Linked DNA regions of Homo sapiens: region 2 is linked to region 1. Evidence: fine-mapped expression QTL. A gene starts in region 1. The other region holds a variant in brackets. All regions are shown on one strand. Distances are between the middles of the regions. Region 1 holds the start of MARCHF2 (membrane associated ring-CH-type finger 2). Region 2 overlaps MARCHF2 (membrane associated ring-CH-type finger 2).

Evidence for each region.
Region 2: its variant is fine-mapped to the expression of MARCHF2 in prefrontal cortex (BrainSeq, PIP 0.91).

What each region holds. Positions count from the first base shown.
Region 1 is chr19:8,412,199-8,415,105 of GRCh38, reverse strand. It overlaps MARCHF2 (membrane associated ring-CH-type finger 2), which reads right to left and starts at 1,801. Exons shown (of 5, transcript NM_001005415.2): 1 at 1,686-1,801. RefSeq lists silencers at 1,635-1,794, 1,825-2,184 and an enhancer at 1,676-2,176.
Region 2 is chr19:8,432,773-8,435,679 of GRCh38, reverse strand. All of the region lies in intron 4 of MARCHF2 (membrane associated ring-CH-type finger 2), which reads right to left. Among named protein-coding and RNA genes, the nearest start is that of HNRNPM, 11 kb to the left of the region's middle. The variant G/AG (reference allele first, on the strand shown) is at 1,599.

The sequences.
Region 1 (2,907 bases):
CTCATTGAGTCTTCACAACAAACCAATAATTACACCCTATGATGGGGAAAGAGGCTGAAGCTCGGAGAGAGGCACCTACTTTCCCAAGGTCATATAGCTAGGAAGGGGTGGTGTCAGAATTTGAACTTAAAACAGTCCAGGGAGTGGTTCTGGACCTCAAGAGACCTGGGTTCTTTAACTCCTGGCCCTCCTGGCTATGCCACCGATGCTGGGTGTCCTGGTTCAAGTCACTTTGCTTCTCTGGGCCTCATTCTAATGATGGAGCTGGTGGACTCTGTCCGTGGAGGGGTCTCCTGAGAAGGAGCCTCCAGGCTGAATTCATCCAGTAAAGCTCACCCTTAGCTAGGCTTGTTTAGGGTGGCACTGAGGCCCCCCAGTCTTTTCCATACCTGCCCAGGCTCCTTTTCCTGAAGGTAGGAAACAGAGGGCAGAGGAATCAGAGGGCCCTAAAACTCCCTACATTGTGGTCTCAGGCAGCTGTTTTACTCTCTCAGCCTCAGTATTATCATCTCTAAAATGAGTGTTACAGGCCGGGCGCAGTGGCTCACGCCTGTAATCCCAGCACTTTGTGCACTTTGGGAGTTCAAGGAAGGTGGATCACTTGAGGCCAGGAGTTCGAGACCAGCCTGGTCAACATGGTGAAACCCCGTTTCTGCTAAAAAGACAAAAATTGGCCAGGCACGGTGGCGGGGGCCTGTAATCCCAACTACTTGACCAGGGTGAGGTAGGAATCGCTTGAATCTGGGAGGCAGAGGTTGCAATGAGCTCAGATCGTGCCACTGCATTCCAGCCTGGGCAAGAGAGAGAGACTCTGTCTAAAAAAAAAAAAGACGGGGAGTCATAATGATATGTAGTTCATAAATTAGTAAAAAATTAAGAAGTTAATAACTATTAGCTCTTATTATAATTACTATCATCAGCTTACAGAGTTGTTGATGAGAGGTCACACAGTCAACCCTGGCACACACAGTAAGTGCTCAATAAAAGCTCTATTAATATTTTTTAGGGTAAATGTGGAGGTTGTTATTGCATTCATTCCTCCCTGCATGAGAAGCAAGGTTCCAATCCCAGCTCTACTCCTTATGTGCTGTGTGGCCCTGGGCAAGACACTTAACCTCTTTGAGCCTGGACTCTCTCAACTGTATAACAGGGGACATTTCTACTGCTTCCACCTACTCAGTATGGTTTCAAAAGAACTGAATGAGCTCAACATGCCCATTTGACTACCCCGTTTTGAGCACCCACATAGCACAGGGCATCCTGTTTCAGCATCTTTGTGCAAAGTGGCTGGGTCATTATATTATAACTTACTATTTTGCAGGCAGAGCCGCTCTGAGAAGGAGGTTGGGGAAGGGCATTGGCCACTTAGCAGTTGCCTACTGTGTGTCAGGCGTTTTCTGCACCAGCCACCTCCTGAATCCTCCCAGAAGCCCCATCAGGTTGGCAATGGGATGACCCAGTTTCACAGGTGGGGAAACCGAGGCTCGGAGAGGCGCCTATGTGTGCCGGACCCCGGAGACCTCCCACCGGCCTTGACACGGGAACTGAGGTCCCCGCGTCCCCGAGAAGGCTGTGGCCAAGGGATCGAGCCCAGCCGTCCCGCCCGGGTGCCGAGCTCCGGCCTCGAACCCGGGGCCGGCCCGCGGACTGGCGTCCTCCGGCCCTACCTGCAGGCCCGTGCCTACCTGATCCGCGGCCGGGCCGGGCGGCCGCACAGGCCCCTCGGTTCGCCTCGGCCCCGGTCCCGGCCCGGCCCGGCCCGTCGGCGCCACTAGCTCCGCTCCGGCCGGCACCTGCGTCCGGGCACCGCCCGCCGAGCCGACAGCGCCGCGGACCAATAGCGACCGCCTCTCGCCTGCATTCGCCAATCGCCTTGCACGTCCCGCCCTAAGAGGCGGGGCCGGAGGCCACAGGGACGACTTGGGCCGCACAGGCCCCGCTGTGCCGCAGCTGCTGGCTCCGCCCCTGCCGCGTCTTGGCTCCGCCCCCAGCTCCGGCTCCGCCCCAGCACTGGCCCCGCCCCAGCCCCGCCCCAGGCACGAGGGGGTGCTGCTGCGCCACCTGCAGACGGCCAGCGTCCTCTAATAAATAAAACCTCTGCAGAATTTAACTTTTTTTTTTTTGAGACTGGCCGGGTGCAGTGGCTCATGCCTGTAATCGGAGCACTTTGGGAGGCCGAGACGGAAGGATCGCTTGAGGCCAGATGTTGGGGACCAGCCTGGGCAACATGGTGAGTTCCCGTCTCTACAAAAAATTTAAAAGGATGGGCGCGGTGGCTCACGCCTGTAATCCTAGCACTTTGGGAAGCCGAGGCGGGCGGATCACGAGGTCAGGAGATCGAGACCATCCTGGCTAACACGGTGAAACCCCGTCTCTACTAAAAATACAAAAAAATTAGCCGGGCGTGGTGGCGGGCGCCTGTAGTCCCAGCTACTCGGGAGGCTGAGGCAGAGGAATGGCGTGAACCCGGGAGGCAGAGCTTGCAGTGAGCCGACATCGCGCCACTGCACTCCAGCCTGGGTGACAGAGTGAGACTCTGTCTCAAATAAATACATAAATAAATAAATAATAAAATAAAATAAAATAAAAGTTAGCCAAGTGTGGTGGCCCAGGCCTGTAGTCCCAGCTGCTCTGGAGGCTGAGGCAAGAGGATCACTTGAGCCCAGGAGTTCGAGGCCAGTCTGGGCAACATAGTAAACTCACCCACCCCCATCTCTAAGACAGATCAATTTTTAAAAAAATACTGCACTATATGTTCACTTAGTATAAGCACACTTTTGCACATAATCACAGTATAACCTTCAAAATCAGAAAATTAATGTTCATCTAATATTATCATGTAATTCCCAGAGCCCATTCAAAGGCCAGGTGCAGTGACTCATGCCTGTAATCCCAGCACTTGGATCA
Region 2 (2,907 bases), 21 kb before region 1:
TGGTCCTAGTTACTTGGGAGGGCCGAGGTGGGAGGATCGCTTGAGCCCAGGAGGTAGAGGTTGCAGTGAGCGGAGATCACACCACTGCACTCCAGTCTGAGAGACAGGGCGAGATACCATCTCAAAACAAACAAACAAAAGAAGTGAATCCTAATGTGAACTATGGCTTTAAAGGGATAATGAAGGTTCACTGATTGTAACAAATGCACTGCTTGGGTAAACGATGTTAATAGTGGGGGAGGCTGTGCAAGTTGTGTGCGTATGGAGCAGGGTGATATACAGGAACTCTCTGTACTTTCTGCTAAATTTTGCTGTGAACCTAAAATTGCTCTAAAAATTAGTCTATAAAAAAATTTAAAAATGGCCTAGTGTGGTGGCTCACACCTGTAATCCCAGCACTTTGGGAGGCAGACACGGGCGGATCACGAGGTCAAGAAATCGAGACCATCCTGGCCAACATGGTGAAACCCTGTCTCTACTAAAAATAAAAAAAATTATCTGGGCATGGTGGCGCACACCTGTAGTCCCAGCTACTCGGGAGGCTGAGGCAGGATAATTGCTTGAACCTGAGAGGCAGAAGTTGCAGTGAGCCAAGATCGCGTCACTACACTCTAGCCTGGTGACAGAGCGAGACTCTGTCTCAAAAAAAAAAAAAAAAATTAAAAAATAAATGTTGCTTAGCGCAATGGCTCACGCCTATAATCCCAGCATTTTGGAAGGCCAAGGTGGGCAGATCACCTGAGTCCAGGAGTTCGAGACCAGCCTGGCCAACATGGTGAAAACTCGTCTCTACTAAAAATACAAAAATTAGCCAGACATGGTGGCAGATGCCTTAATCCCAGCTACTCGGGAGGCTGAGGCATGAGGACTGCTTGAACCCGGGAGGCGGAAGTTGCAGTAAACTGAGATTGCACCATTGCACTCTGGCCTGGGCGACACAGTGAGACTCCGGCTAAATAAATAAATAAATAAATAAAGGTCAGTGGTTCACATCCTTTGACCAAGCAAGTTCCCAAGAAACATTTGCATGGACAGTCCCAAAGCACTGTTCATAATGGAAAAAACAAGGAAGTAGAAATAAAACCACACACACATTGGAAAAAATCCCAGTGCCTGTCAAAAGTGATTTGTTAAATAAATATGGTCCACCCATACAATGAATGTCTGCTGGGTGGCTGCCTCGTTGTGTGTGTGGGTTTTTTTTTTTAAAGAACACCAGCAAAATGAAAACAAGCAGATGCTAAAACAGTAGCTATGATTTCATCCTATTTACATATTTTAAAATATGCTGGTAGGGGCAGGGCGCGATGGTTCATGCCTGTAATCTCAGCACTTTGGAAGGCCAAGGTGGGTGGATACCTGAGGTCAAGAGTTCGAGACCAGCCTGGCCAACATGGCGAAACCCCGTCTCTACTAAAAATATAAAAATTGGCTGGGTGTGGTGGCACATGCCTGTAATCCCAGCTACTCAGGAGGCTGAGACAGGAGAATCGCTTGAGCCCAGGAGGCGGAGATGGCAGTGAGCCAACATTGTGCCACTGCACTCTAGCCTGGGTGACAGAGCAAGACCCCGTCTCAAAAAAAAAAAAAAAAAAAAA[G/AG]AAATGCTGGTAGGTTCATTGAAAAATACTTTGTGAGGCAGGGACTCCCCTACAGCTGGACAATAGTGGTTATGTCTGAGGGGTGAGATTTGGGGGAGCTTTTGCCTCTAAGCAAGGGTTCTGCTGCCTACCAGAGGCCTAGAACAATACCTCACACCCCCATCATTCTGTCTGTCTCTCATTCAGGCTTTTTTTCTTTTTTTTTTTTTTGAGACAGAGTCTTATTCTGTCACTCAGGCACCCAGGCTGGAGTGCAGTGGCACGATCTTGGCTCACTGTAACTTCCACCTCCCAAATTCAAGTGATTCTTGTGCCTCAGCCTCCCGAGTAGCTAGGATTACTGGCATGTGCCACCACACCTGGCTAATTTTTCTTTTCTTTTCTTTTCTTTTTTTTTTTTTTTTTTGAGACGGAGTCTTGCTCTGTTGCCCAGGTTGGAGTGCAATGGTGCAATCTCAGCTCACTGCAACATCTGCCTCCCAGGTTCAATCGATTCTCCTGCCTCAGCCTCTTGAGTAGCTGGGATTACAGGCATGTGCCACCACACACAGCTAATTTTGTATTTTTAGTAGAGACACGGTTTCACCATGTTAGTCAGGCTGGTCTTGAACTCCTGACCTCGTGATCCACCCGCCTCAGCCTCCCAAAGTGCTGGAATTACAGGCGTGAGCCACCGTGCCTGGCCAATTTTTTGTATTTTTAGTAGAAACGGGGTTTCACCATGTTTCTCAGGCTGGTCTTGAACTCCTGACCTCAAGTGATATGCCCCCCTCAGCCTCCCAAAGTGCTGGGATTACAGGCATGAGCCACTGCACCCAGCCTTTTTTTTTTCCTTTTTCTTTTATTAATATTATTATTTTCTTCGAGACAAGGTCAGGCTCTATCACCCAGGCTGAAGTTCAGTGGTGCAATCTCGGCTCACTGCAACCTCTGCCTCCAGTGCTCAAGCGATCCTCCACCTCACCCTCCGGAGTAGCTGAGACTGCAGGCACGCACCACCACGGCCGACAAACTTTTGTATTTTTTCTAGAGATGGGGTTTTGCCACTTTGCCCAGGCTGGTCTCAAACTCGTAAGCTCAAGCAATCTGCCTGCCTCAACCTCCTAAAGTGCTGGGATTACAGGCGTGAGTCACCATGCCCAGCCCCTATTATTATTTTTTGAGATGGGGTCTCACCATCTTGCCCAGGCTGATCTTGAACTCATGGGCTATGGTGATCCTCCTGCTGCAGCCTCCCAAAATACTGGGATTACAGGCAGAAGCACTGCACCCAGGCTTTTTATCTTTTTTTGATACTGGGTCTTGCTTT